Homo sapiens: one gene and its partners. The protein of the gene in region 1 interacts with the protein of each later gene in a pairwise test. Each region holds a gene or a part of one and is shown on either strand. Other genes may lie near its edges. The genes, in order: TBC1D1, SYTL4 and APPL2.

Region 1 (10,567 bases):
TCTCTGCCTAGCGCTGACAGGGGTCTCTAGACATCTTCCTGCAGGAGATTGGGTGGTGGGGCACAGGAGGGAGAGGAGCTGACTTGTTTGGGGTCTGATGAATCAGGGGTGATTACGGCCTAGGAACAGGAGGAGCAGCATCTATGCCAGGCCCTGTTCTGTTTGGTACTTTTAGCCATTACTTAAAGGCACAAAGGCCATGTTTGTCCACTTGACAGGCAAATATATACAACTTACTGGTCACCAGACTCAAGACTCAAAACAATCGCAAAAGGACTGCTCAAAACTGATGAATACTTTATAGGTACAAACTATGCGAGGGAAAAAAACTTCTCAAGTATAGACATGACTCCCCCACCCCGCGAGACAAGGTCTCACTCTGTTGCCCAGGCTGGAGTGCAGGGGTGTGATCACAGCTCACTGTAAACTCAAACTCCTGGGCTCAAGTAATCCTCCTGCCTCAGTCTCCCAAGTAGCTAGGACTACAGCTTCACAACACCACGCTCAGCTAATTTTTATTTTTTTGTAGAGACAGGGTCTCACTATGTTGCCAAGGGTGGCCTCGAACTCCTGGCCTCCAGGGATCCTCCTGCCTTGGCCTCCCAAAGCACTGAGCTTACAGGCATGGTCAACTGTGCCAAGCCAGGAAACCAGTCCAAATTTAAATAATGGTTCATATCCCAAAGGACAAGATAGAATAAGAGCCAAGAATGTTTGAGTTAATCACTTAAAGCAGAAACAGATTATGAAGATCAATCTGCATTAACAGAGCAGTGGCAGGTCAACGGAAGGAGCAACACACTGCCAGAGCCAGAGGCCAAGTGAACACCAAGTTCAACTCAGGACTCCAGGAGGGGCAGAGGCTCTTCGGAGGACAGGACTCGGACCAGGGGTTCCCAAACAGTGACGAGGGCAATTCCCCTGGAGAAGAGAGCTAAAGGAGGCAGCAGCTTCCATGGTCCTCTGTCATCTGAAGGGCAGGAAACAGATGCAAACACATTTCCGTGTGGCTTCAGAGACCAGAGAAGAAGCCAGGAATCAGAGGACAGGGAGGCAGGATGCGGCTCAGTCTGTGAATGCTCGTTTGAAAACTTGGAACTGTTCTATGATGGAGCAAGCAGTCATCTGTGGCCCCTAACGCATCCTGGCCACTGCACAAAGCATTTCCGAGCAGAAATTTCCAAGCGACCATGCCCTGTGAGGTATGGCCACCGCAACACCGAGGCACTCTTTATTAAACACCGAAACTTGGGTTCTGGCACCCCTTTCAGACATGAATCAGCTTCGTTCCTCCTCCAGGGCCTCCCTCTGGTGGCTCTGGTTCCCACTGCTCCACTCCACACCCTCTAACAGGGTGCTACAGGACCTGGGAGGAAGAGCCCTTCTTTGCGGTAAGCAGACCTCTCCACGGGGCAGGGGAAGAGAGATGTGGCCATCTGGCTCACACTGGCAGGAAGAGAAATCAAACCCTGGCTAGGCTCAGCAGCTCCACCGAGGGGCCACCCACGGCAGGAATACTTTATAGGTACAAACTACTTGAGGGAAAAAAGGTGCTGGTGAGTGGCAGCTCCATGGTGCCCCCACATAGAAAGGCTGGGGCAAAAGAAGCAAGGGGCCAGGCTCACCCGAAGGACTTCCACAGCATGGGAGGTGACATTACCCTGGAAACATTCGCATCACTGATTTTCTTTCCAGTACTATGAATTTTGAATGCTTTAAAAAAAATGTATCAGTAATGATATCATGCTGCCTTGTCTCTATCAGTGTGGCAACAGGCATAATTAATCCCAGGTTATAGGTGGTAACTTTAGACAGTTTATTCTAGTTCACAGCTCCTAAGGGGAAAAGCTGGGATTTGAAAGCAGACTCCGAAGCCCACGCTTTGGTTACAGCGGGTAGCTCGTCAGACATGAGGACGGCAGGAGAGGGCCCTTTCCAGATATGCACCAGCAATGTCAGGCGACCATCAGGTGTTGGTCAGGCAGTTGTCAACTGTTTCTCTAAAGTGATCGTTGGTCACAGCGGGCACCAAGGAAGGGCGGGCTCCCAGTAGATAGAAAACACCTAAAACTGGGGAGCTGCAGCTTCCCAATAAGATCTCGGGAGCTGGGCGAGTGGGCTCAAGCATGCGCATTAAGAGGCAACATGGCGGAATTTACCTGGTGCATGACGTTCCTCTAGGAATGCTAGACTGGACAGGGAAGAACGCCTCAAGTGAGCACGCCTACAACTCCAGTAAACACCCTGCGCACGCTCCCCCACAACCCCCGTGTGCTAGCACGCCAATGCACATGCGGACAGCCCACCCCAAGGGAAGAATCAGAGAAGAAGGAACGCAAGACCCCGGAAGTATGGCAGCATATAAAACCCCAGGTCAAAAGGCCAAATCTCACACTTCATCTCTCAAGTTGCCCGCCTAACCACCTTCAAAGTGTACTTGACGTCCTTTCATTCCTGCTCTGAAGTTTTTAATAAACTTTCACTGCTGCTCTAAAACTTGCCTCAGTCTCTCCTTTTGCCTTATGTCCTAGGAGGCAAGAAGTGAGGTTGCCGCAGACCTGTCTGGATTCACCGCTGGTTAACACTGTGACCACTCTAAACATCAGAGCTCTGCTCCTGTTTATGGAGAGGTTACCCTAAATTAGCTTTAAATTCCTTCCCTAAGAAATGGAGGGTAACCTCTAAATTCCCTCCCTAGTTACCTTTGTGATTGCCTCAGACCTGCCAATACTGAAGAGGACGGCGCTCTGCTTTCTTACCAATATGATGGGGCTCCCAGGGTCCTCTGTCAGCGTGCTCTCTTTGAGGTTTCATTTCAGGTACCGGCCTTACCTTCATATCTGCTGGAAGAATCGCACGCCTTCTGCGGGGTGGCTACTCGGAGGAATATCTGCTGCCTCCAGGAATGCCTCCGGGTCTTCACAGGAGTCCCACCAGAATCACCAAGATGGTTTGCTTTGGATTCAAAGTCCCTAAAATTATAAGATGATTGATTTATGACTAGTGGGGAGGAATTCACGGGATTTTGTTAGCTTAACATTTTTTTAAACAAATCACTAAATTATCAACTATCTTTGTATAAACAAATAATCAATCACAGAAGTTATATCAAGCTCACAGTGGGTCATCATTCCTAAAGAACTGCTTTCTTACAGAATTCTTTTCATGAAAAGAGAAAGATTACATGCCCTTAAGTGATTTCGATTGTAACAGAGATTAAGAAACATGTTCCACATATCATAGTTCCAATTGGGCCTCTCTTGGTGCCACTTTGATAAAGAGAAACTGCCTAAAGGGGGAAAGGGGGTGATGCCAAGGGGCCCCATTCTGCCCTCTTCTGTGCATGGGAATATCTGCTCAGCACAGGCCCATGTCTCCAAGGATTCCCACAAAAAATGAAAAAACTTGCAATTTAATTACACAGAACCAGCAAGGCAATAACTATGCAGTCACTTGATGATGATAATTGTTTTAACGTGTGTATTTTTTAAACTACAAAATACAGTTATCAATATATAAACACAATCATAAATGTTTTCTCCTATTCACAGGACAACCTGAGAAGGCCCTTCCAATTTATACCCAAGTTATGTACCTGTAAGTAAGCAATCCCCTCAACTTACAGATTAGACGTCCTGAACAGATCAGACATCCTGATTTGAAACAGACATATGCTCACTAACCAGAAACACTGGTCTCAGAGACTTGGCAAAGACTTTTCTTAAGATAACACTTAAACTAATCCTCGTCAAAACTAGAGAACAGGTTGGTTGCACATTTTTAAAAATGGCATTCAGTAAGAAAAAAGTATAAGAAAGAAGATACAACAGATTTAGCTGAAATGATTTTTTAAATGGCAAAATAGTAATTAAAACACCCTTGTATATCTAATGATATTCAACACTTAGTAACACCCAGGCTTGATATATCTAAATTAAGCCCTACCTTTTTGTGTTCATAAAATCAGAGGTGTTATTTTCATCTACAGGAGCCAGAAATTTTAGAAAATTTGGCACAGAGGAAGAAGAATGAAGTTTTTTCCGCAGGGCATTACGGTAGGAGATGCTAAGAGTTTGGTTGAAAAAAGAGTTTAGGATAAAGAAACATAAAAACACAAAGTATAAAATATAAGCTTCAAAATAAAAGAAACATTTTTGTTCTAATGCTAAGAAAAGAAAACTAGGTAAGAAATTAAAAGTAGTTCACGAATGAGATTTAATTTTCATTTTCACCAATAAAATTTGATTTTAAATGAATGGGATCAATAATTTTTTAAAAAAGAAAATCCATCCATTTTCCAAATAACTCTTCCTTTCAAACTGGGAAAAATAATTCCCCTAAATCAATCAGGAAGTTTCTGATATGGCACAAATTGCAGTGTACATGATCAAACACAGATGTTATCCTGTGTGTGTGTGTGTGTGTGTGTGTGTGTGTGTGTGCGCGCGCGCGCGCGCGTGTGTGTGTATATACGCATGCATGTAAGTGTCCACTAGGGCAAGGAAATGTGAAAATAAGTATAAAAAAACAATTTGCAGCAGGGTGCAGTGGCTCACACCTGTAATCCCAGCACTTTGGGAGACTGAGGCAGGCGGATCACTTGAGGTTAGGAGTTCAAGAACAACCTGGTCAACATGGTGAAACCCCATCTCTACAAAAAAAAATAAAAATATTAGCCGGGCATGGTGGCGTGTGCCTGTAGTCCCAGCTACTCGGGAGGCTGAGGCAGGAGAACTGCTTGAACCCACAAGGCAGAAGCTGCAGTGAGCCGAGATCACGCCACTGCACTCCAGCCTGGGGAACAGAGTGAGACCCTGTCTCAAAAAAAAAAAAAACAAACACAAACACAAACCAATCTGCCATTAAGATCTGTTTTCATAATAATCTTAAGAAAAGTCATCAATAGTAAAATTAACTTGGTTCAAATGACAGCTGAAAATAAGACAAAATATAAACAAAGACACACACGCGCGCGCACACACACACACACACACACACACACAGTGGCTCTGCTTCCTGCATGGACATTCCCCCCATTCAGCACATCCTCATCAGTGTGAACTCCCCAGGAAAACAGACAACACCAAACTTGCCACGTGAGTGTGCTCACCTCTTTGGCACAGCATTCCCACTTTGTTCTCCACTGGAATTATGTTTTAGGTACTTAAAAAAGTTTGGCGAGGAGGCGGAGGGGTTAAGACGAGGTGGAGGAGCAGGAGCTGAAGACTGACCTGGGCGGTGCTTAGACTCACCCACAGGTGAAGGATCCACACTAAACAGCAATCAGAGAAAGCACGGGGGGGTTAGCAGGAGAGGGGGCGCCGACAGGGACACGGAGCAAACAGGTGGAAGGAGCACACCGCTTTTGTCTCGTTGTTCCAGTAACACTATCAGAGTGGAGGACTTCTTCCACTCCTTTTCCTCATCTCTGCTCGCTCTCTGGCAAAGGTAGTTTTCAGTGAAAAACAGAGTATATTGACGGCCGTTCTTGACCATTTCCCACGTGTTTATGCTCCCAACAATACTTTTTTTTTTTAATAGGTCTCACTCTATCACCCAGGCTGGAGTGCGGTAGCACGATCACAGCTGACTGTGACCTTGAACTCTTGGCCTCAAGCAACCTCCCACCTCAGTCTCCCAAAGCTCTGGGATTACAGGAGTGAGCCACTTCGCCCAGGAACAATAATATTTCTTTCTCTATTTTCTTTTTCAGGAACTGGCAGGAAAAAAAATTTTTAATTAAAGTATAAACAAAAGCAAAAAAAAACTGAACTTTAAAAAATACATTTCCCTTTAAAATGAACAATATCCTGCCCTGAATTTCAATGTCTTATTTCCTGTAGATAAATCGGAAAAGAGCTCACAAGGGGGAAAGAAAGCAGAATGGGCCATGCTAGAGAGGCAGACAGACAGGCATCTCCTCATCCCTCCCATTACGGATGTGTGACATCATCTATTATAAAGCTACATTCTTCATGGAGAAAGGAAAAGTACTGATACTAAGTCCTATCAACTCTGGCTTTTGAGAAACAGCAGACTTCACAAGAGAACTAGGACTCTCCAGACAGGAATGTTTCAATGATCACTGAAAACGCCAACAACAGAGGAGTGGGCAGGCAGTGGTGAGGCAGCACAGAAGTAATGTGCAGACAGGGTGTTAAACACAAGAAACTTACACAGCTACAACCCAACGATGTGTGTCTCTAAAAGCGTGTATTTATTAAGCAGTACCTTCTGACATGTCCCCTGCTTTTGGGATCACCACTACCCCGCTGAATTCCAAAGAACCAAGAACTCTTTCCAATGGCTGACAGAAAACAAAGCTGGGAGGCTCTGCTCCATCATCCAGGACTGTTAATGCTCACACTTCTTTACTCAGAACATTCCAAACACTTCTGTACTAACTCACACTCTCAATGATCCGTGTATGAACTACACGAACACATAGGTCCTGGGACTTCTGCGGCTGCTGGTCAGAAGAAGGCAGCGACTGTACACAGGTGTGACCTTGATTCATATTAGGTGAGAGATTTTTAAAATTGTTTAAAGTTGTTTTTAAAGATAACTGTGTCCATTTATAGTCTCTGGCACACAGAGTTAAATGAATCACTAAGGGACACTTGGAAGGAATGGGGGGAACTTCTGATTACTCTTCTCCATAACCAGACGATTCTAACTGGTCACAGGAACCCAACTATTACAATGAATAAATCTTGTTAGAAGAATCTAGAATTCTTACAGTGAGAGATTTTAGAAAACATCTACTCCAATTTTGTTATTCAGAGAATTTAGCAAATTCGTCCAGGTCACAATTAGTTCACGGCAGAGCTAGGACCAGAAGCTGAAGCACCCCTGTCACCCTATGAGGCCAGCATACCTCTCTTGCTCTGCCTGTAAGGATCAGCGCCTCTCCCTCCCATTATAACCCTGCTCCAGGGCTTCAGATGGGGAGACTCATCCGCTTGCCCTCTTCCTCACAGCAGCAAAGTTCCACAGTCAACAACGTCTCTTACTTTGTTTGAGGAGTAATGACTATGCATGTTAGGTACCATTTTTGCTCACTTTCACTTGCTTCCTGACAATACAAGTACCCATTGCTTGTATACTCACAAGCAGCTCGAACGAACATGTCACTGCTTCCAGTTTTATCTCCAAACCAAGAGTAAAGCCTGACTCATTTCTCTCACTCAATAAACATACCTGGGATGCACATACCTGGCTAGTCACAGATATGCCCCAGCTATTTATGCAACAAATTTAAACAAATCTTACTTTCGTTCATGAGGCGTCTCTGTGCTCACTGAGTGATACCTCATAAGTTTCCTTTGCGAAACCCCCGGGGACCCCCGGGCAGGTTGTGGAGGTTCCTGGCATTCGATGGGGAAGTGACTCAGGGTGTTTGCTCGCCTCCTGAAGGCCTGCTGGGGCGACAGCGGAGCTGGCTCTTCTGGGAGATGACTCTCCGAGTCACTGGACAGGTCCTCCGAGGAGCCGAGGAGCTTAAAGGAGCTCTCAGAGATGGGCAAGGCCTCCTTTTCACACACAGATGGCTCCTGGGAGCAAACACACAGCAGATCAGACACACCATGGGGAATATGTGGGATTTATAAATCTCTAGTTCCTGCACGGGCAAACATTGCAGTATCTAAGTATGTGTTCTGATTATAATGCCATCTAGAAGCCACCACCAAAAGCAGAAGAAAATGAAGGTCCATTAAATAAATGCCCGCTCCTCAAGGACACACTGCTGGCTTGCTGGAGAAATGGGGAGACTGGCCAAGTGCAGGAGTGAAGGACATAAGCCACAATCTGTAACGTTCTGAACAACGCCATGAATAGTGCCCTCTCTCTAGAAAACAGGACTGTTTACTGCAGCTTCTAAGGGGTGTGAGTGCTGGAGAACTTGTCTCCACTGCTTAACCAAGTTCTTTATCTTTGCCACATGTGTTCACTCATGTTAAACCCACATTTTAAGGCTCTCTCCGAATCTGATCTACTGTTGAGATTCGACTTCATAATTTGAGATTAAGAACTGTATCAATATTCTTAGAATATGGAAAATCACTCTGTAGGCACTTACTGCTGCAATTCAGGGCAAATAATTTCTTTCTGCACCTCAATTTCTTCTGTAAGAGGGTAAAGTAAAAATGTATCTGAGTTTCAAGAACAAAGCAAGATGATACAACCAAAAGTACTTTTTATGTTGTAAAATGTTACACAAACATAAGTTATTGTTTTATTAGGTATGCAATAAATCTATGGAGTGAGTGCTCAAACATTTGTTGAGAATCATGACAATATTTTAAAGTTGTATGCCTTCACGATGCACGCTTTTTCAAAGGAATGAACTACTACCACTCAAGCAAACTGATGTTTAACACTGCACCCAGGACGTGGCTAGTGGCCAATATATTTTTAATATATTCAAAATATTCAAAAAGAGGAATTGTAGCAGCTTGCTCCTATTGAAATTGTTGGAAGAGAAAAAATAAATCAACAGGAATAGAGTAAACAAGAATGAATGCATCTAACAGTGGACTGGAGACTGAATTCTACCTGTTCATTTACACAGTTGAGTGCCTTTTAGGTAACAAGTATTGAGGGTTTTAATTTGAAAAAAAAAAAAAAAGAAATGTGTTTACCAAAGGGAGAAGTTACATACATTTAATTGTATAAGAATTAGGAAAAAATTCCCAACATACTATGAAATATTGATTACTTTCATAACTGAAGTTTTTCATTCTTCAGGACTCAACAGTTGTGAAGATTCTTTTAAGGATTTAAAAGTCTCTCTAAGACAATACATCACAGAACACAATCTCCATCATGCAAACCTGTTGATCTAAATTCTTACTAATATCCCTCCAAATCATATCAAAGAGCTAACCCTTAGCTTAATTGGACAACTGAAAGGGCCATTTTCATTTGTCAAGTTTCAGGGCTATTTGGTTTCTTTGCAACTCCTAGGTGATCAATTTTTTAGAAGGGATCCAATTACATAAAATAGAATATAGTAGTTTCTCAATTCAAGATGAATAAAAGAAAGATGTAAAGTACACTTAAACATATACAATACATACAAGCAGCTTCTGAAAAGTTGCATCTCTCTTAGAATGACTCTAGAAATTGCAATCTTAGACAGACTTTTAAATCCTTTTAAAAGAATCTTCACAACTATCGAGTCCTGAAGAATGAATATGTATATATTCCTAGATCTGCCTTTTGGAGAAAAATAAAAAGCAAGCAATAAGGCTTACTGGAAAGCCCACTGAGTGACATGAATGTCTTCATGGTATGTCTATTGACACTGGTCTGTCTAGAATGCCTTCTTCTCTGTTCACTTCCATAGGCACAATTCCTACACCAAGATTTAGTCCAAAAGCATCACTGCCCCCTCACCCCTCACCTTTTCCCTGGTTCCACTGACCAAACCTAACTTCCCTTCCCCTTGCTCTTCTGACACTGAAGTTACCAATGTCTCTTATTTGTAACTTCTGGGCTCCTACCACACTCTGCTTGATGCTGGGGCTGTTTCTGTATCTGTCATCTCTCTCCTCCTAGGTAACTTCCTACATGAAAGGGGCGGTGTGTGGTTCATCTGTACACAACAAATAAGCAAATAGCCTTCCCACACTTGCAATGAATTGCAGGGTGGGATCAGTGTGTATTAGATGGAGGCTGGACGACACTATGTTCCCCTGGATTTTAACTCAGAAACTCACATTTACAAGACTGCTGTCTAGGACCTCACTCCCCAGAGGCGGTCTGCAGACCAGGAGCAGCAGCATTGCCTTGGAGCTTGTCAGAAATGCAGCATTTCAGGGCTCCCCCCACCCTGCCTACTGAACCAGAATCTGCACTTTAACCAGTCTCAGCTACTCAGGAGGCTGAGGCAAGAGAATGGCCTGAACCCGGGAGGCGGAGCACCTGAAATTTGAGAAGCACTCATCCATCTAAGGAAGTGTTTCTCAAACTGCTCCCTCTATCATGTTAGTAGGTGGTACAACTGAGTAGTTTGCCATGAGCATTTTAAAAATAAAATAGAACAAAATATCAGTATGTATTGTATGTTGTTCACAGTAAATATTGTTTTGTGAACTTTTAATTTTGTGTGTGAATGTGTAGGTATGTGTGTTTGTGAACTACGCCACAATGTTAAATGTGCTTCTTACTGTAGGTTAGAAAAATTCTGAAAGCCATATGTCTAGGAGGGATGGCAGAGGACTGTAAACCCTGCCTGTGGTAAGGAGCTGGCCTCCACAAACACTCCCTCCCTCACTACTGCCAAAGAGAGTCCTCTGGTAGCAGAAGGGAAAGCTGGCCTCCCTAGCACAAAACCCAAACCCACTTTTCAGGAGTTATAAAGTTGAACTGACCAGGCTTAAATATGATTAAATGTCTAGAAAGCAAGTTATTAAAAGAAGGACATAGATACTTGCTTATTTAAATAAAACAGTAATGTTTCATTATAATCATAGAGCCAGCTACAGGATAAAGTTTCAGAAATTTAATTTCCCCACAAGTGGGGGAGAATGAAAGGGGGTGTGAAGGTTGAAAAATTACCTAC
Region 2 (10,567 bases), on another chromosome or scaffold:
ATCTTCTTTCTCTCATTTTGTTTTATCATCTTGTATTTGAATTCTTGCACTTTATTGAATTTATATTATTAGTTCCCCTGTAGTGTAAAGCACTCACATGAAACCTACTTGTTTTCCTAGGGTTAAATTCTTCTCCAGACTCGGTTCTTCATCCATCTTGCAAATTGTTTTCATTTCTCTCCACTTCATGGCTATTTATATATCTGCCAGACTATTATTTCATTTTACTGAACTTTAATATGGGAAGTTTTGTCTGTATCTTTTGTTTCCTCTGATATAGCATATGTGAGTTCTTCTCACCTTAACTTGAAACAATTTATCTTTTCCCCATTCCCAGCTGTACTTTAGTTTAAGGACTGAATATTGCTTTTTATATTTCTTTCCTTGTAACCTGAAGGGGTAGGTGCAGAAGGCAACTTGGAGTCCTGAGTTTTGGTCTCATGAAATTCTCTTAAATGTCCTGGTTCAGGGCTTACCTGTCCCAGATCTGGGTTAATCCCCTAGCTCATACCAGTGCCCTGGGAGATGACATTTTGCATCAGTCTTGTCTGTCTCTGTTGAGGTTCTACAGTGGTACCTGGGGCTATAAATCTTGAGGACTTCTGTTTTTCTTGACTACTCACTCACTTAATCTGCAAATTGCTACATTGGAAAGGATTAGTTAAGGAGCTTTGCTGAATTAAATCTTCTGTTTTCTTAGGTGCGATTTTTGAAATCTGTGACTTGAGGCTTTATTTTTGACTCATTTGGTTGTGGCGGTGAATTTTTAGCTTTTGTATGGTGTGTGTGTGGTTTTTTTTTCCCCTAACTTTCACTCACCCAAAGGGAAATGACTTTATCATGTTTCATATGATTGTTGAAAAACAGCATAGAAATGTATAAAGTAAGTCCTCCAGTAACCTCACTGCTTCTTCCCCAGATAATTATCGTTAATAGTTGTGAATAGTTTTGGCATATGGACTACCAAGCTGTCTAAATATACATATATGGGTTGGGTTCCTAAGTTTTTAATTTCTTTTTCTTTAAAGGATGATACTATAAACATGTTAAGTGAAAAAAAGTGAAAGAAAAAGAACTTTAAAAACTCAATAATACAGACAATCCCATAGAAAATGCACAAAAAATTTGAACAGACATTTCACCAAAGACAATATAGAGATGTCAGATAAGCACATGAAAAGGTGCTCAACATCTTTAGTCATTAAATAAATTTGACCTAAAAATCACAATAAGATACTACTACATACCCATTAGAATGACTAAAATTAAAAAGACTGACCATGCCAATTGTTGGTGAGGATGTAAAACAACTGGATTTAAAAAAAATTTTCTTTTCTACATTTCCTCCTTGCTATTATAAACAACTAGCATTCTTATACACTGCTGGTGGGAATGTACAATGGCATAGCTACTTTGAAAAGCAGTTTAGCAGTATTTTAAAAAGTTCATTGTGCACCTACCTTGTGATTAAGTCATTTCATTCCTGGGTACTTACTCAAGAGAAGGGAAAACGTATGTTTGTACAAAGACTTCTACGTGAATGTTCATAGCAGCTTTATTTGTAATAGCCCAACCCTGGAAATAACCCAAATGCTCATCAGCAGGTGAATGGATAAACTGATTTGTTTATACGGTGGAATACTACTCAGCAATGGAAAGAAATGAACTATTGATACACGCAATAACATGAATGAATCTCAAAATAATCATGCTGAGTGAAAGAAGCCAAGCAGTAAAGAGTACATACTGTATGGTTCTGTTTGTATAAAAACTAGAAAATACAAACTAGAAAGCAGTGACAGAAAGCAGATCAACACTTACAGGAAGGGCAGGAGGGATTAGAATGGGGCAGGAGGAAACCTTTGGGAGTGAAAGATATGTTCATTAACTTAATTGTGGTGATAGTTTCGCAGATGTCTACATTTGTCAAAATGTCACGTTGCACACTTGAACATGTGCAGCTTATTTATGTCAGTTATTACTCAAAGCGTAAAAGAAAAAAATTGTAGAAGGATATAACATGAACATCTTTCTGTGTCAGCACCAAGGATCTGTTTCATTCTTTTGACATCTGTATGATGTTTCATTGTATATATGGACTGTGATTTTTATCTACACAGCCTTGGGTGGGTGACTCATCCGTTCCAGGTGATGAGGCCCCCTTTTTTCTTTGTGGATTAAGGATAAGAATGGCTTTTATTTGCTGAACCTGATTAACACATCTGACATCATCAGTCAGAATGTAATTTCTGAAACCTATTGCTTCTGGTTGTCTGTGATCTCTTGTCTCATTGGACCCAGAAGACTCTTATTTATCCTAAACATGAAAACAGATTAAGTGACCATAAATGATCTTTCCCATGAAATTATGGAGCCTCAGAGATAATTTAATTCAACCACCCTATTTTTGCAGAAAAGAAAGCAGGATAAGTGATTTACCTGAGATCATACAGATAGTTAGAGCCCAGGGCTCCCATCTCTTAGTCTATTTTTTACTGCACAGATGTCAAATAATTGCTTTTCTGCCCTTGGGTTGTTTGTATTAGCTGTGGATTGGTATGTATTAATCTTTAGGAAAAAAAGGAAAAACCACTCTCCATGGACCATTGTTAAAACTACCTCTCTGGAGGAATGGTTCTGCTTGGGTTTTTTTGGCGGGGGTGGGGGTGGGGACAAAAGGGGAAAAAGGACAATTCTAAAGTAAAAAATGAAATCAAGCCCCCCTGCTATGTCTTGTGCTATACAAGTAATACATCTTTCAAGGAATGACTGACATTTCACCTCTTGTAAGTACTAGGATTTCAGCCCTGCTGTCTGTTTTCACAGAACTGTCAAACATCATGTGACAACTTGGAGAGTTTATTCTTTACTGGCTAAGACATTATAGATTTTGGTTACCTCATTCTTTGTGCATCTATTAGTTTGTTTGTTTGACAAATATCTATGAATGCCTACTATGTGCCAGGCATTGTTTTAGACCCTGAGATACACTGGTGAATACAAGGCCTCTTGTTTGTGGGGCTTAGATTTCCGGGGTGGGAGATAAAAAGATAGTCAAGTAAATGTATGGTATATCAGATGTTGACAGGTGCTGTGGAGAAAATGAAGTAGACCAAAGGTATAGGGAGTGCCAGGAATGAATGTGTGTACATATACTGTTTAGGATAGCCAGGGCAAGTCTTAACAACAGGGTAACGTTTGAGCAAAGATATGAAAAAAATGAGGGAGCAAACCCTTAGGGTATCTGGGGGAAGAGCATGTAGATAGAGAAAGAAGGAGGTATAAAGACCCTAGGGTGAGATTTTGTTTGGCACTTTTGAGTAATCTGAAACTGAGTGAGCAAGGGAGGCTGAGGAAGGAGTTGAGGACAGAGATGGGATGAGAAGCAGATCATGTTAAGACTTTGGTGGCACTTGTAAGCATTCTGTCTTTTACTCCAAGTAAGAAGGATGGCTCTGAGGGGCACAGCCTTATTTTGTCTTCTTTTTAAAAATGGAGGTAAAGTTGACATAACATAAAATCATTTTAATCAATTTTAAAGTATAAAGTTCTGTGATTGTTAGTACTTTCAGAATGTTGTGAAATTAGATCACCACTATCTAATTTCAGAACATTTTCACCATCCCAAATAGAAACCCGATAGCCATTAAGTAGCCACCTCCATTTACCCCAGCCCCTAATATGCTTTCTGTCTTGATGGATTTGCCTAATCTAGACATTTCATATAAATGCAGTCATGCAATATGTGGCCTTTTGTGTTTGGCTTATTTCAATTAGCATAATGATTTCAAAGTTCATCCATGTTGCAGCATGTATCAGAATTTCATTGTCTTTTATTGATGAATAATCCATTATATGAATATACCACATTTCATTTGTCTAATCATGCATTGATGGACATTTAGGATGTTTTCATCTTTTGGCTATTAGGAATAATGCTGCTATGAACATTCATGTAACATTTTTGTGTGGACATATATTGTTTAGTTCTGTTGGGTAGGTACCCAGGAATGGAATTGCTGGGTCATATGATAGTTCTATCCCTGATTTACATTTTAAAAGCTCATTTTGGCTGTTGAGGGAAAGTCAAAGCCAAGGGAAGAAGCAGGATTAGTTAGGAGGCTACTGCAACCATCCAAGAGCTACATGATGGTGGTTTGGACCAGAGTAATGGCAGTGGAGGCAGTGAGAACGTATCAGAGTCTAGGTATACATTGAAGAGGATTTGCTGACAGATTTGATTTGTATTGTGAGAAAAAGAGGAGTAACCGATGATTCTTAGCGTTTTTGACTTGAGAAATGAAAGGGAATTGCCATTTGATGAGACAGAGCGAAGAGCAGTTTTGGGGGAAGATTAGGGCTTTGGTTTTGGGCTTGCTGTGTTTGAGACATCCACGTGGAGACATTGAGGAGGCCATTGGAAAAACAAGTCTGGAGTTTGAGTAAGAGATAAATTTGAGGCCGGGCATGATGGCTCACGCCTGTAATCCCAACACTTTGGGAGGCTGAGGCGGATGGATCACCTGAGGTCAGGAGCTCAAGACCAGCCTGGCCAACATGGTGAAAACCTGTCTCTACTAAAAATAAAAAAATTAGCCAGCCATGGTGGCACAAACCTGTAATCCCAGCTACTCAAGAGGCTGAGGCAGGAGATCGCTTGAACCCAGGAGGTGGAGGTTGTAGTGAGCCGAGATTGTGCCACTGCACTCCAGCCTGGGTGACAGAGACTCCATCTCAAAAAACATAAAAAATAAAAATAAATATATTTGAGTTATTAGTTTATTGAGGATATTTAAAGCCATGAGACTAGATGAGATCATTTAGGGATAATTCTAGATAGAGAGGAGGAGCAGCCCAAGGAAGAAGTTTGGACATAATCTAAATATTAGAGGTCTACGGGAGGAGGAAGGACTAGCAAAGGAGACTGAGAAGCAGCAGCCAGTGAGGTTGGAGGAGGAAACCAGGAGAGTGTGGTGTCCGGGGAGCCAAGGGAAGTTATTTGAGATATTTGAGGAAGAATCGATGTTTTTTCCCCCTTTTCCTGCTGCTCTCACTAATTCTTTGAGGTAAGGGGCCGAGGAACCGTATCCTTCCCTTGAAAGATGAGAACTGGTATTTTGAATGCCCAGAGTCATCCTTCATTAAGGCGATTAAGCTAAAAAAAAGAATTCTGGTCACCTGAATACTGTCTTCTAGACATACTGCTTATTTATGGATATATCTCAGTCCCACTGAGGGCATTTATTCAATAATTCAGTCAATAAAAATACTTGAGTGCATACTCTATGCTAGTCTCTCTTCAAGGCACTGAGAACACATCAGTAAATAAGATACGTGGTCACTGATCTTATGGAACTTTGTCGAATGGAGGAGAAAGACATTAAATAATTTGTTTAAATTATTGAACCAAATAAATAATTTGTTTAAAATACATAAATAGTTACATATGTGGTGACTGTTACTAGGAAATCAGGATGCTATGGGAGCACAGAGGAAGGTTACTAATCGAGACTTAGGGTGGGGGCATGGCCAGAGAGATCTGGAGGAATTGACATATAAGGAGAGACCTGAAGCAGGAGTAGATTGAGGCAGGTGAAGAAAAGTGGCCATTGTGAAAAGAATATCTTAGGCAGATAAAAGAGGGAAGATGGAGAGCTTCAGGATATTCAGAGAAACAAAATAACTTTGTCTTTCTAAAATATAAAGCTTGAAGGAGGAGTAGGGGGTGAAAAATGAGACTGGAGAGGGTGAGCAGGGGCCAAATCATGAGGATTTCTTGCCATGCTAAGGAGTTTCAGCTAAATCCCAACAGCAATGGGGAACCACTGAAGAGTTTTAAAAGTATACTGAGGGCCGGGTGTGGTGGCTTACGCCTGTAATCCCAGCACTTTGGGAGGCCGAGGCAGGCGGATCACGAGGTCAGGAGATCGAGACCATCCTGGCTAACACATTGAAACCCCATCTCTACTAAAAATACAAAGAAATTAGCCGGGCATGGTGGCACGCACCTGTAGTCCCAGCTACTCGGGAGGCTGAGGCAGGAGAATGGCGTGAACCCAGGAGGCGGAGCTTGCAGTGAGCCAAGATCGCGCCACTGCACTCCAACCTGGGAGACAGAGTGAGACTCCGTCTCAAAAAAAAAAAGTATACTCAGCTGGGCACCATGGTACATGCCTGTACTCAGCTGGTACACCATGGTACAGTTACTCAGAAGGCTGAGGCAGCAGGGTTGCTTGAGCCTAGGAGTTAGAGACTGTTGTGCACTATGATGGCACCTGTGAATAGCCACAGTACTCCAGCCTGGGCAACATTGCGAGACCTTATTTCTTAATTAATTAATTTATTATATGTTTAAAGTATACTCATATTTATTTTAGAAAGATCACTCAGGCTACGATTGTGAATGGATTGGAAAGAGGCCTGACTAGAGGCAGGAGAACCTGCTTCCTTTCAATATTGGCTCTTGGTTTTTATTCTAGTGTGCTATTTGAAGTGCCAAAGCTGAAAAGTGGAAAGAGTGCATTGGAAGCTGAGAGTGAGAGTCTGGATAGCTTCACAGCTGACTCGGATAGCACCTCCAGGTGGGGTTCCCCCCATTTCCCTCATCTCCTCTCAACCCAAGTTGTGATTTTGTTCTGCAGCATCAGTGTTCCTGACTTCTGTCCTCAGGAAGTTGAACGAAGTATTTTCTCTGTCCTCAACAGAAGTCTTTTCAGTAGCACGTCTACTGATTTGGCTCTGAGCACAGCTTCCTGGAACACATTGACATCTCTAGTCAATTCCCCCAGTATCTTGGAGTATTCTTCTTAGCCCAGTAGCAACTGATGCTGCTGTCCCTTAAGAATGAGGGTGTGAGTGTTTGTGTTTGTGCAAAGTTGCCTATCTGATCTTCTGCATTCCTTCCAGGTAAATCACATGCGAAGTGTACCTTCTGAATTTGGTTATTACGATGACCCAAGCCATTGGCTCTCCTTCCATAGAGCTTTGATCCCTGGGTAGAAGGGGAAGGGTAGGAGGTGACTTAGTTATAATTTCTGAATCTACCTCCAGGAGAGACTCTCTGGATAAATCTGGCCTCTTTCCAGAATGGAAGAAGATGTCTGCTCCCAAATCTCAAGTAGAAAAGGTAAGCTTCAGGTTATTGAGCCACCTTCCTCCCCTCCCTTCCTTCCCTTTCTCCTTTACCTCCTGTCTCCCTCCGTCTTTCCCTCCCTCCCTCCCCCTCACTCTTCTCTTCCTCTTTCTTCCCTCCCTCCCTCCATTCTCTTAGGCAGAATTTAAATCAGGAATTTCAACTAAACAAATTTCAGTTCAAATTCACTTGGGAGCATTTTCTGAAGTTTTGTTTGAAATGTGTGAGAAAATAGGTTTTGTACTATTTCTAGGCATTTAATCTTTCCTTTAAGTTTGTCATAGTTTAGCGAAAATCTGAGCCTTATTCTTCTTAAGACTGTCCTTCCTTACTCACTCCTTCTACCTATCCATCTGTTCTTTTCCATTTTCTTGCCCTTGTTCCTTCCTAGGAAACTCAGCCTGGAGGTCAAAATGTGGTATTTGTGGATGAGGGTGAGATGATATTTAAGAAGAACACCAGAAAAATCCTCAGGCCTTCAGGTAACTGGTTTCCCTTACTGGTCTTTCAGGACTGAAGTTCTGAGTACCCTTGATGGGCTCTTGGTATGGAGAAGAATAGGTCTCTTTGATTTGGCTTTTTTGGTCTTCCCCTCAGAGTACACTAAATCTGTGATAGATCTTCGCCCAGAAGATGTGGTACATGAAAGTGGCTCCTTGGGAGACAGAAGCAAATCCGTCCCAGGCCTCAATGTGGATATGGTAGGTGCCCTTATATTTTACTTGGTCACTATATGAAATTTTACTTATCTGGAGTTGGCTTTAGTACCTGATATTCTCAGTCAACCTATTTAATTCTTTAAGAAAAGGCAACATGAAACTTGATACCCCCAAGTTTCTAAAGTAAATCTGGTTCCTGATTTGCTTAAAGGAAAGGACTGTCTTTGCTATCTCTTTTTTTTTTTTTTTTTTTTTTTTGAGACGGAGTTTCGCTCTTGTTTCTCAGGCTGGAGTGCAATGGCACGATCTCGGCTCACTGCAACCTCCGCCTCCTGGGTTCAAGCAGTTCTCCTGCCTCAGCCTCCTGAGTAGCTGGGATTACAGGTGTGCGCCACCATGCCTGGGTAATTTTTTATATTTTTAGTAGATATGGGGTTTCACCATGTTGGCCAGGCTGGTCGCAAACTCCTGACCTCAGGTGATCCACCTGCCTCGGCCTCCCAATTTTTTTTTTTTTTTTTAAGAGACAGCATCTCACTCTGTTTCCCAGACTGGAGTGTAGTGGTACAATTATAGCTCAGTGCCACCTTGAACTCCTGAGCTCAAGCTGTCCTCCCACCTCAGCCTCCTGAGTAGCTGGGACTATAGGCATGAACCATCATACCCAGCTAATTTTTTTTTTTTTTTTGAGAGATGGGAGTCTCACTGTATTTCCCAGCCTGGTCTTGAACTCCTAGGCTCAAGTGATCCGCCCGCCTCTGCCTCCCAAAGTGCTGGAATTACAGGCATGAGCCATCACGCCTGACCATCTCTTTTATTTTCTAATAAATTGCTGGATATATGGCTGGGGCTCAAATAAATACTTCTTTTGATTAAAATGTAAACAGGGTTGGGGAAAGTCAAATGGAAAAGAGTTATAGCTTCTATGAAAAACATTAAATATTCTTATCTTATTCTTTTGAGATATGAGAAGGATGGTTGGAATAGAGCTGGGAACCCTGAAATGGGAAGACATGTAAAAAGAAGGATATGAGGCCAGGCATGGTGGCTCATGCCTGTAATCTCAGCACTTTGGGAGGCCGAGGCAGGCGGATCACCTGAGATCAGGAGTTTGAGACCAGCCTGGCCATCATGGAGAAACCCTGTCTCTACTAAAAATACAAAAATTAGCCAGGTGTGGTGGCGGGTGCCTGTAATCCCAGCTACTCTGGAGGCTGAAGCAGGAGAATTGCTTGAACCCAGGAGGCGGAGGTTGCGGTGAGCTGAGATTGCGCCATTGCCCTCCAGCCTGGGCAACAAGAGTGAGACTCCGTCTCAAAAAAAAAAAAAAAAAAGAAGTATGTGTGCGTACACATACACATGGCAACTTGGAGCTTTAAAGGAAAGATATTAGTCTTTGAAGCTAAAGAAAAGTCTTTCTTTTATTAACTCTGAATTTATATTTATTGTTCCAGGAAGAGGAAGAAGAAGAAGAAGACATTGACCACCTAGTGAAGTTACATCGCCAGAAGCTAGCCAGAAGCAGCATGCAAAGTGGCTCCTCCATGGTAAGTTCTATTAGATCTGTGGTTACAGGCATGTTGGGGTACTAGGAAGAAAAGAAGCACCTCCCTAGAGCAGATTCGGGACCTGGGGAAACCATCCTAGTCACTCTTTTCAGGTAAGTAAGATCATTTGTTTGTTCCTATCCTCAATTTAGACTATAGGTGCTTAGTGTACATCTAGGTGACTTCCTGAGCCCCCACCTGGAGATTATTACATTACAGCTTGGGACATTTTTCATCACAGCTTTGTGAACAATAACCTTAACTTATCCTCTAAAGGGGTACCCAGGCTATGAAGTGAGCAAGATCAGATTTCTTCATCATAGCCCATTCCAAATTCTCAACATTAAAAGAAAGTGAGTGTCATGAGAGGGGCTCTGGCAGGGTTGATCGACATCAGGGTATGGTTAACAAGCAATAATACCAGTCAGGATAATGAATTTAAAGGGAACATTTAAGAATCAGGGCCTGGTTCTGTCATAAGCATGAAGATTGATATTTAGGGAAACAGGAACAAGGGTGAACAGAATTTGTTCACACTCACACACAGGAAGAGAATGTCAGCTCGCATGACCGATTACTACCAGAAAGGAAGGTGCCTTTTCACTTCTGGTGGGGTTTCCTCCCTCCCACTCACTCCCAGTTCTGGCCAAATCTCTTTTCTCTGTAGGCCCTGATAAGACATAAGGTGGATAAGAGAAACCCACAGATAATTAAGGCACCTTGTTTTAGTTAGTAACTAACCCCCTTCTAGCTGGTGTTTTAGTGTATATAACACATTCCCCAGATGGACTTAACTGCACCTTGCCTCTGCTCCCTGCCCACCTCCTGGGGCAGGTGAAAATGAACACTAAAATTTGTAAAAAGAGTTGAGGAAGAGAAGCTAAGAGGCTAGGTGAGCCATGAGCTGATTCATTCACCTGAACAATTTTGAGTGCTGGTAGTTCTCTCTTACCCTCTGGGTCAAGGAATGTCAGCAGCACTGGCTTATTGCAGGGGCTTCTGAAACTTCTGTTCAGTGACTGTGGTTTTATCATGAGGGAAGATGTGAGCAATGCGGGCGGGGGAGTGTGCCTTCCCCAGATGTTCGTGGGTGCTTTATCTTCAGAGTACGATCGGCAGCATGATGAGCATCTACAGTGAAGCTGGTGATTTCGGGAACATCTTTGTGACTGGCAGGATTGCCTTTTCCCTGAAGTATGAGCAGCAAACCCAGAGTCTGGTTGTCCATG
Region 3 (10,567 bases), on another chromosome or scaffold:
GGTGTCTCCCTTGGAAGCAGAGCCCATGATCTCCCAGATCATTCCAGCTAAATTGTACCCTTCTGCTGCTCTTTCCACTTGAATGGGCAGTTTTGCTTTAACGATATAAAGAAACACATTATTTCTAAAATGCCACCAGTACCCATAACGAGGTAGCAAGACTTGGAGGTGGCCGCTGGTGCTTTCTGGTACTAATGGGCTTTTTAAAACACAACTCACAGCAAAACAGGGCTGGTCACCACCACCTGGGAGAGGCTTTATTTCTTCACCCAAGGCGGGAATCTCATGTGTCAGCCCAGGGGAGCCGTGGCTGGAGGTTTGATCCAGGACCTGGACAACTGCTCAGTGATGGCCGTGGATTGCGAAGACCGGCGCTACTGCTTCCAGATCACCACGCCCAATGGAAAATCGTATGTTTCACGCGTTTTATTTGGGAGGAGAATGAGTATAGTGGTTCCACCCGTTCCAAGGGCCTCCTAGTTCATTCCTATGTGCCAGCCCTCTGTGGGAGAGGCCCCAATCTGGGTATTGTTGACCTTTCAGGAGGATGATTTTCTGCTCTCTTTAAACAAGCCCGCATGACCCATAAGGGATCCAGCCTGCCTTATCCCATATGGAGATAAGTGAGGGTTTGTCTGTGGCTTTGGAGAAGAGATGACCTACGTGTGTGAGACAGCAACAGAAGTCGTGCTTGTTAGCATAGATTCTCAGAGAGAGAAGGCTGTGGCTACTCCTAGCCTGTTGTAAAGAAGCATTTGTGTTTGGATTGCAGCAGGGGAGAGTAACTATTTTGGTAAGGACGACCTTCCTGAGAAGGCCATTTTTCCAGCAGAAGCAGGAGTTGTGAGAAGTGTACTCCACTGCAGCAGCATCGTCGGCTGCCAGGCTGTTCCCACATGTCCTGTGTACCTGAGGGGCCCCAAAGAGGTGGTACTTTACCAATCCGCAGGCTGTGGCCATTCACAGTAGATCCCATCCCAGTGGGATCCCCTCTCAGAGTGGTGGTTTTTAAACTGCTCCAAGGAGTTCAGGGTCCCATGGAGGGGCTTCAGGGTCCCATGGAGGGGCTTCAGGGTTCACCTGCCTGGGGAGAGGAGTGGCCCTGCCCGTCATCAGAGCCGCTCTTCTCACACTGCATTCTATTAAGATTTGACCTGAACAGCAGGGGTAGGGGTGGGGACGGCATTGGGATGATGTCTCTCCTCCCAGCTTGGCAGAGCAGCTTTAGACCTCATCCTTCCTGCTTTGGTGATGGGAAATGACCTGGGAATGGAGATTCCTGGATGCTCATCATGGTCCTTTGCAGTTACCTCCTCTGGGCCTCACTTTCCTCAGATATAAAATAGGGATAAGATCTATGTTACTCCATCTGCCACAGATGAGAGGAACAAGGGAACTGGCAGATGTGGGGTCTCTTTAAAAAGTTAAAGCCTCGGCTGGGTACAGTGGCTCACGCCTATAATCCCAGCACTTTGGGAGGCCGAGGCAGGTGGATCCCCTGAGGTTGGGAGTTTGAGATCAGCATGACCAACATGGAGAAACCCCGTCTCTACTGGAAATACAAAATTGGCCGGGCACGTTAGTGGTGGCGCATGCCTGTAATCCCAGCTACTCAGGAGGCTGAGGCAGGAGAATCGCTTGAACCTGGGAGGCGGAGGTTGTGGTGAGCCGAGATCACACCATTGCACTCCAGCCTGGTGCAACAAGAGCAAAACTCCATCAAAAAAAAAAAAAAAAAAAAAAAAAAAAGAGTTAACGCCTCCACAAAGGTAGGGCAGTATTACTGTTACCTTATTCCCGGGCCTCCATACGCAGCAGACTTTTCAGTTCTGGGAAAGGAGTGAATGGGCTGCCAAGTCCTTCTTTGGGCATGGTTTGAGGAGTGGCTGGGCTTGGAGTCCTGGTCATCTTGGATCATTAGAGGAGGTCAACAGGTGGATCTCACTGTACAAACACAGATTTGGGCTAGAAGATCCGAGTCCCGCCTTCTCATTTCATAGATGAACATGCTGAGGCCCAGGGAAACGGCCATGTTTGTCCAAGATCACATAGTGAATCAGGGCAGAGCCAGACCTACAAGCCCATTTTCTTTTTTCTTTTTCTTTTTTTTTTTTTTGTTTGAGATAGGGCCTTGCCCTATCACCCAGGCTGGAGTGCAGTGGCACAGTCACCACTCACTGCAGCCTCAGCCTCCTGGGCTCGATCGATCCTCCCACTTCAGCCTCTCTAGTAGCTAGGACTACAGGCACACGCCACCACGCCCAGCTAATTTTTGTATTTTTTGTAGAGAGGGGGTTTCACCATGTTGCCCAGGCTGGTCTCGAACTCCTGGGCTCAAGCCATCCTCCTGCCTCACCTTCCCAAAATGCTGGGACTGCAGGCATGAGCCACTGCACCTGGCCCTGGAACCCCATTTTCTTTCCCTCTCATCATGCTGCCTTCATGGCACTTTTCCTCCCACACCCCAGCTAAGTTCAGTTTATGTAGAGAAATTCCCAGTCACTGAGATCAGGGAAGCACTTAATTACTTAGACACTTTTGTTTCAGGGGAATAATCCTCCAGGCTGAGAGCAGAAAGGAAAATGAAGAGGTAAAAATTTTGTTTGTCATATTTCTTTCCTAACGTGGTGGGTGACTTTGGGATTCAGTGTTCTTTTTTAATGTCCTCTACAGTGGATATGTGCAATAAACAACATCTCCAGACAGATCTACCTGACCGACAACCCTGAGGTAATTATCAGCCACCGGCATCTCAGCCCTTTTCTCAACCTGGAAGGTAAGCGTCCACCTCCTGGGACTGAGTGTGTCTTCCTGTGGATTTTTAGGCAGTCGCGATCAAGTTGAATCAGACCGCTCTGCAAGCAGTGACTCCCATTACAAGTTTTGGAAAAAAACAAGAAAGCTCATGCCCCAGGTAACTAAAGGACAAAGAAAAACTAGCTTTTGTGGAGCCAAATTATTGATTAGGAATACGAAATGAGTTGTTGCTTAATCCACACAAACCAAGGCATGTTTTTCAGCCTGTTTAACAGAAGCAGTAACGATGGCTGGGAAAGGTTAAATACCTGCCTGTGTTCACACCACATTGTGAGTGGTAGAGCCAGGATTCAAGCCTGTCTGATGTCAGCATCCCTGTCCTTTCCACTGGACCATGCTGCTGCAGTCCAAGCAAACAGGACGTGCATGGAGGGTCCTCCTAGTCAGGAGTTCTCCCCACATTTTCTATCAGTGTCAACAAAGTAAGGGAACGAAAGCAAAAATGTTTTTAAAAAATAAGGAAAAAAAAATCGCCTTTTATGTATCCCATGTTAATGTCCACGCCTTATCTGAACATACAGTGATAGTTTTATATGTACATTTATTTTGTATTTGCACATACTTTTTTTTTTTTTAACTATTTCTACATTTTTCAGAATTGTTCCTTTTAGTAACTACACCCTATTCCATCATTTATTTTTTTACTTACTTATTTTTTAATTTTTTCGAGACGGAGTCTCACTCTGTCACCTGGGCTGGAGTGCAGTGGAGTAATCCCGGCTCACTGCAACCGCCACTTCCCAGATTCAAGTGATTCTCCTGCCTCAGCCTCCCGAGTAGCTGGGATTACAGGCGCCCACCACCACACCTGGCTAATTTTTGTATTTTTAATAGAGATGGGGTTTCACTATGTTAGCCAGGCTGGTCTTGAACTCCTGACCTCAAGTGATCCACCCGCCTCAGCTTCCCAAAGTGCTGGGATTACAGGCATGAGCCACTGCGCCTGGCCCATTCTACCATTTATTAACCATTGAATATTTAGGTTATCTCCCTGGCGTTTACTGTTATCATTTAGAGCAAACATTTTCATGCATACAGCTTTCCTCATTTTGAATAGTGCTTTAGGATTTATTCCAGGAATCCTACCTTTTGTCTTAATGGGAGTTTCCATCTGGTTAAATAGTAGAGGATTGTATTTTCATACTAATGAAAGCCTGGCATTAAAGGGTAAATTAAAATTACGACTATATTTGGTGTTCATCTTTTAGTGGCATGGTAGAAAGAACCCCATTACATTTTTTACAAATATCTAATGACCCCAGAAGGAAGTCATTAGAAAACTCAGTGGTTAAGTAACTTCCCAGAATCTGTGCAGTGTGGAGCCAGCGTTCACATGCCGGGCACGGGGTATCTGAGAAGGAATGGGAGAAGGTAAGGCCAGAAAATAGGTTTGAGTCTAACTGGAAAGACCTGGGTGCCCTGCTTAGGAGTTACAGGCAATGGAGCAAAATGGAAGGTTTTGAGAAAATGGGCGATGGTCAGAACCAGGGTTAGGGAAGACTATTCTGTACCTGAGTAGGATAAATTTTAGGATACAGGTTGTGGGAAGAAGGGGAGAGTGCAAGACCCAGTAGGATGTTGATGTAGTAGTAGCTGTGAAGCAGAACATGAGAACGTAAACAAATGTTTTTAAAAAAGAGGAGAAAGAGGCAACAAGTCCGAGAAACATTTCAGCACCGTAACTTAAGGATTTAACAGTTGATACAAGTAGCATGCTTTATGAAATGGAACTCTAAGGAAGACACTATATGAAAGGAAGTGGAACTAAAGATCCAGTCAGCGAGGGTTAATCCCGTAGCCTTCTCCTGGGTAAATGTATGTCTTCTCTTTGTAAAGTTACAAAAATGTTTGATGTGCACAATGGAGGGAATACCAGACCTGCAGTTGAGAGACATGGGTTCTAACGATATCTCTGCCTTGTGTTATACACAGCTAGATGTCCCTGAGTAAGTCAGTAAATGCTCTGGGCCTTTGTCTTCTCAGCCTTGTGACATACAGGGAACTAGCTAACCTCCTAGGACCCTTCTAGCTCTGATATGCCATCTCTCAAGGGTGTTGATGGATAGTTTAGGGGGGTTTGGAATTAGAAGGTGTGATACGTTTCCTAAAAAGACAATTTGCAGCCTATATTTAATTATTCAGTAACTGACTTTTCCCCCTATTCTAGAATAAGCAAGTCACATTCTTAGACCAAAAGGACCCCACAGAAGGGACACAGAAGACTCCCTGGGGGGAAAAAAAATGACTCTAGCCAGCCAGCTGAATTAGCCCAGTGATTGGATGGGTGACAGATGTGGCTGCCAGATGGCCCCAGAGCTGTGGGGAGAGGGATACTATCTCTTTTAGGGTCAGCCCACTGAGAATAAAGCAATGTTTTGATGACAGTGGGGGGGGAAAGAATCAGAGAAATTGTGTTCTTGGGAACAAACTGCTATTTACTTCTAAGCAAGTACCATGTGTGGACTTCCCTCATTCTGCAGTTACTATATATCTGCTGTTCATTCATTTATCTAGCTACTCAACAAATATTTGAGTATCTACTATTTGCCCAGGCCTGGCCTAGGTAAGAAAACGCAGGGATTACTGGGGAGAACAGGCAAAAGGTAAGCACAGGCTGAGTTAAAATGAGGGAAGCACCCCAATGTTAAGGAGATGAGGTGCTGTCATGGAGGGTGAAGAGGAGACCTGTGCAGGGCCTGGCTGTGAAGATAATATTCAAGCTGCAAAGTGAAAGACAAGACGCAGCCACTCTTGCAAAGAGCCAGAAGTAGTGTATTCTTGGTAGCAGTTGTGGAGGTAACAGGACAGAGAAGATCTTAGTATATCTGAGGAACTGAAAAAAGGCAGTGTAACGGGACAGTGGAGATCATGGGACAGGATGAGGGCGGGTGGGGAGGGAGGCAGGGGTCGATCAAGAAGGAAGCATGTGGGGAGCTGTGGAAGGGCTCTGAGAGGTGCGTGTTTGTGATGGAGACAGAGATACCCACTCTCCATTTTCCAAAGTTAGTTAGCTCTGGCTGCTCTGGAGAGCACAGAACAGAGCAAGTCTGTAGCCAGTGAGGAGGCGTCCCAACAGCCCAAGAGAAGATGATGGTGGTTTAGACCAGGATCACGGCAGAGATGAAAAGTAGATGGATGTGGACTTATTCTGGAGGTAAAACCTGTGGGACTTTTGATGGATAAGCGTAGACGGAAAAGGACAGATCAAAGGATGACTTCAGTTGGAGCTGAACACCTGGGCAGATGGTGTTTTTTAAAAAAAAGAAGAGTTCATGTTTTGGACATGTTAAGCATGAGAGGCCTGTGAAACATCCCAAATGAGTTGTCAAGCAGTCAACGGATGATACAGGTCTGGAGTGCAAAGAAAACGTCTGGTCTGGGTGTATGAATCGGGGACTCATAGCACTGAACAGCAGTGGATGAGGTCCTCTATGGGAGAAAGGAGAGGGAGGGGAAAGCAGAGCCTGCAACAGAATCCTAAAGAACTCCAGCATTTAGGGTAGAAAAGGAGCCTGCCAAAGACATTGAGAAGGAACATCAAGAAAGGTAGAAGGAAACTCTGTAAAATGTGGCACCAGCCGAAACCGAGAGGAGAGTTCAAGGAGAGATCAGCTGTGTTAGATGCTTTAAGTCAATTATGATGACTGCGAAGTGTCCATTAGAGCTGATGACATGGAGATCCTGTACAGGTGAAACTTAACATCATGTCACTCCTATGTTCAGAGTCTTTGGTGGCTCCCTATACTGTTGTGTCAAGTTCAGACCCCACCTGACGGTATAAGGGCCCTCTACAACCTGGCCTCACCCTATCTTGATTGTTATCTATCTCCCCCCTTTGACTCTCTGGGGAGCCAAAATCTTAGACTCACTTTCTCCCCTTGAAGCTTCTACTCATAGCTTTCTTCAGTGCTTACCACTTATTATATCACAGCCCTCTCTTAAAGACAGGATCAAACAGATGTGACTGTCCCATTTAGGGTTATTGAAGCAGTATGACATCCTGGAGATGCACTCTCCTGGCAGTGAGGAGACCCCTGTTTATAATCTGGCTCGCCCACCAGGTAACTGAGTGCCTTCAAAACTGCTCAATTTCTCCAGAGGCCTCAGTTTCCTTTTCTGTTAACAATGGAGGTCAGACCAAGTGGTCTCCAAGGGCTTGCCTTGCAGTGACCATCTACAAGCCTATGTACTGTTTCATCCACATTCCAGTCATTATGATCATTTGTCAAATGCCTGTTGTAAAGTAGTTTGATACACTACATTCAGTTATTGACATGTTTGAGAAATAGGAAAATATTGACATATCAAATGAACAGAAAGATCACTGAGAGCTTTTTAAGGTCCAGGCAATGAAAGAAATCAAAATACATTGATATTCTTTGCCCTTCAAAGGAGTTTATAGTCTGGCTGAGGAGAAAAGATTTTTAAAACGTTGAAAAGTTAAATTACAGTATTCTGAGACTGGAGGAGAAGAACATGTTGGTTCCTGATTAGTCTGTCCACAGAGAGCACAGTATTTGATGGGCCACAATGTCAGCAATGAGTGTGGGCACAATGCGAAGCTCAGGAGGCACACAGGGCCGCAAGACTGTGCCTGTGACTTACTGAGAAGAATCACAGGAGTTCAGAGGAGGGAGGCGGGGTGCCGGCTGGCCTAGTGGATAAGGAAGAATTTGAGCTGGGTTGGGAGAGTTGGGTGAGCAGCAGAATTGGGATAAAGATGGAAATAAGGAAAAGCATGTGGTATGTGTGGTACAGCTCTCGTAGAGGGTGCATTAAAGGAGTGGAAAGGGAGGCTTTTGGGGAAATTAGAGCCAGATGGTGATTAAATGCCAAGCCAGGACCTTTGGTTCATTCAGCTAACATTTTTTAGTGCCTACTATGTTCCAAGAATACATATGACTTAGCTATAGCATAGGCCCTCCAAAACCTGCCTCACAGAGAAGGATACAGACAGAAAACTAGTAACACAGTGCAGGATGCTGTGCAGCAGAGAGAACTGCAGGAAATGGGGCAGACTGAAGGTTTTTAGCCAAGGATATGAAGGAAGTTTGAAGAAGGTTTATTTGTAGAATGGATTAAGGGATTGAGGTCAATCTTTCCCCTTGTATTTTCATTCATAAAAGTCACCTCAGCCTTCAACAAGTATTCACTTGATTATAAAAGCGTAAGGTTAAGGGAATTGATTTTTTTCCCCTTCAGCCAGAACCTGAAAAATTCAGAGATGGAAAATGAAAATGACAAGATTGTTCCCAAAGCAACAGCCAGTCTACCTGAAGCAGAGGAGCTGATCGCGCCTGGAACGCCGATTCAATTCGATATTGTGCTTCCTGCTACAGAATTCCTTGATCAGAACAGAGGGAGCAGGTATGGGCTGAGAGAGGTTATCTCTGGGAGAACTGAAAGTAAATTTGAGGTATCTTGTGTCCCCCTCCACCACCAAAGACTGTTGCCATTCTGATTTCCAGTTCAAGTGTTAAGTGCCCTTCTAGCTGCAGCTGTCGTGTTTGTTCAACTCTGGCTATTCCCCTAGGCGTACCAACCCTTTTGGTGAAACTGAGGATGAATCATTTCCAGAAGCAGAAGGTAAGTGACTAGTTTGGTGTCCTTATTCTTTCCTCTGCACAAAATGACAACGGCCATTGAAATAAGATGTGAAATCATGTTTTAGAGAGCTATGATTAGGAGTATGAATTAAGATTTGTTGTTCTGAAAGTTTAGTAAGATATCTGCAGTGGAGGCAAGTCTTGGATAAAAACTGAGGGGTAGCTGAAAGACCACCTACAGCTATTTCACCATTAGCCATAGCGTTTTTGTAGCATAGCATAGAAATGTTGTGAAATCTGAATCTGTTATCACATTCAAATGCAGTCTTGGTGAACTGGAAATACGCTGTGTCATTTTAGAAAACCAAAAGCACAAATAACTTGTTCTTGAATTTGAAGATGACACAAATGATATTTAAGTCTTTCAAATTCAAATTTTTGGTTTTTTACATTCTTATAATGTACTTAAGAACGTATCTGATGGCCGGCACGCTGGCTCACGCCTGTAATCCCAGCACTTTTGGAGGCCGAGGCAGGTGAATCACGTGAGCTTAGGAGTTCAAGACCAGCATGGGCAACACAGTGAGAACCCTGTCTCTACAAAAATATATATATATATACAAAAATTAGCCAGGTGTAGTGACAGGTGCCTGTAATCCTAGCTACTCAGGAGGCTGAGACATGAGAATCACTTGAACCTGGGAGGCGGAGGTTGCAGTGAGCTGAAATCATGCCATTGCACTCCAGCCTGGGCTACAGAGTGAGACCCTGTCTCAAAAAAGAAAAAAAAGAAAAAACCTTCTTTGGTCTTCTAGTTATGGTTGCTGGGAGTCAGTTTTGTCAAGTTATGCGCCACTGTCAGCAGCCAGGACTGACTTCCTTTAGGCTATGAAACATCATCACTGCCTTTCCGTAATACACATGAAGTATGAATTGCATGAGACCCAACATGAGATCTTATATCCTGCAAATAAAATTTCTTTTCTAAGAGGACTTTATCAGTGGGCCAAAGTAATGAATTTTCTATTGTCTAGTGAACTCACTCTTTTCAGAGAAAAGGTACAATGTAGTCACCTAGAGTTTCAGCATTAGAAGGATGTTCATCTGGTACCACCATCATTTCATTTTATAGATGAAGAAAAGCCTTTCTAGTCTAATGAAGTAGTTCCAAACAAACTGACAAGATGTAGACAAATGGAAGACGCAGAGCTTTGGCAATATTGGGCTTATAAAAGTGGTATTGAGAAATTTTGGTAGAAAGTCCTCCACAGAAAGCAGGCAAAACTAGCACATCTGACCCTGGTATGCAGATCAACAGCAGCAGGAAGTAAATGAGATCCTGAGTGGAAAATGCTGTCTTCCAGATTCTCTTTTGCAGCAGATGTTTATAGTTCGGTTTTTGGGATCAATGGCAGTTAAAACAGACAGCACTACTGAAGTGATTTATGAAGCGATGAGACAAGTATTGGCTGCTCGGGCTATTCATAACATCTTCCGCATGACAGAATCCCATCTGATGGTCACCAGTCAATCTTTGAGGTACGTTCAGTTTTATTTTCAGACTTTCTTATGGCTTCAGCTAATTCCCCTTTTAAGGCTAATGCACCCATCTGAAATGTTAGTACTGGAATGAAGAGACTACTCTTGCTTTTGCCCCCACTACTTTTTACATAAGATAGATAGCCTAGAAAGTGCTCCCTTAGAGACAAGAACTGGTATCTTCAAAAATCCAGTGGTGAGTGAATACTGTTGTTCACAAAGATGCCATCACACTAGACTTATTCTCTATATTATAGCTCAGAGCTTGAAAATGGAAGTTTTTTGGTTTTGCTTTTTTTTTTTCATTTCTGAGAGTACTATTTATAAAAAATAATGGAAAAAAACTTAAAAATCTGCCTAAATAACTTGGCCATCACAGAGAGAGCAGGCCATATTAACTACATGATTTAGTGTTTCAGGTAATACGATCTGGGTTTCAGATATGACCAAAATCCTGGTTATGAACATGGGTGTATGATACTGTAGCCACAGGTAGCATCTGCAGCAAAACTAGCCTGAACTGAGATGTGTTTTCAGTGTTAAATACATACCAAATTTCTAAGATTTAGGATGTAAAACATCTCACTAATTTTTTAGGTTAATCACATGTCTGGTAATATTTTAGATATACTGGATTAAGTAAAATTAATTTTATCTGTTACTTT

Evidence for each region.
Region 2: the proteins of TBC1D1 (region 1) and SYTL4 interact in binary tests that used the Homo sapiens proteins (3 or more experiments, as listed by UniProt).
Region 3: the proteins of TBC1D1 (region 1) and APPL2 interact in binary tests that used the Homo sapiens proteins (3 or more experiments, as listed by UniProt).

Annotation. Positions count from the first base shown.
Region 1 is NC_000004.12:38,046,604-38,057,170, reverse strand, and holds part of TBC1D1 (TBC1 domain family member 1), read right to left. Parts: intron 7,554-10,567; coding exon 7,273-7,553; intron 5,273-7,272; coding exon 5,111-5,272; intron 4,066-5,110; coding exon 3,946-4,065; intron 2,973-3,945; coding exon 2,833-2,972; intron 2,497-2,832; exon of another isoform or gene 2,421-2,496; coding exon of another isoform or gene 2,182-2,420; intron 1,392-2,181; coding exon of another isoform or gene 1,205-1,391; exon of another isoform or gene 1,022-1,204; intron 1-1,021. Other genes in the region: uncharacterized protein LOC124900692, read left to right, coding at 1,205-1,391, 2,182-2,420. UniProt on the Homo sapiens protein: May act as a GTPase-activating protein for Rab family protein(s). May play a role in the cell cycle and differentiation of various tissues.
Region 2 is NC_000023.11:100,687,122-100,697,688, reverse strand, and holds part of SYTL4 (synaptotagmin-like protein 4), read left to right. Parts: intron 1-6,479; coding exon 6,480-6,581; intron 6,582-7,050; coding exon 7,051-7,126; intron 7,127-7,523; coding exon 7,524-7,614; intron 7,615-7,729; coding exon 7,730-7,833; intron 7,834-9,245; coding exon 9,246-9,338; intron 9,339-10,443; coding exon 10,444-10,567. UniProt on the Homo sapiens protein: Modulates exocytosis of dense-core granules and secretion of hormones in the pancreas and the pituitary. Interacts with vesicles containing negatively charged phospholipids in a Ca(2+)-independent manner.
Region 3 is NC_000012.12:105,187,608-105,198,174, reverse strand, and holds part of APPL2 (DCC-interacting protein 13-beta), read left to right. Parts: intron 1-221; coding exon 222-410; intron 411-2,547; coding exon 2,548-2,590; intron 2,591-2,648; coding exon of another isoform or gene 2,649-2,673; coding exon 2,674-2,730; intron 2,731-2,825; coding exon 2,826-2,914; intron 2,915-8,019; coding exon 8,020-8,184; intron 8,185-8,350; coding exon 8,351-8,403; intron 8,404-9,727; coding exon 9,728-9,902; intron 9,903-10,567. UniProt on the Homo sapiens protein: Multifunctional adapter protein that binds to various membrane receptors, nuclear factors and signaling proteins to regulate many processes, such as cell proliferation, immune response, endosomal trafficking and cell metabolism.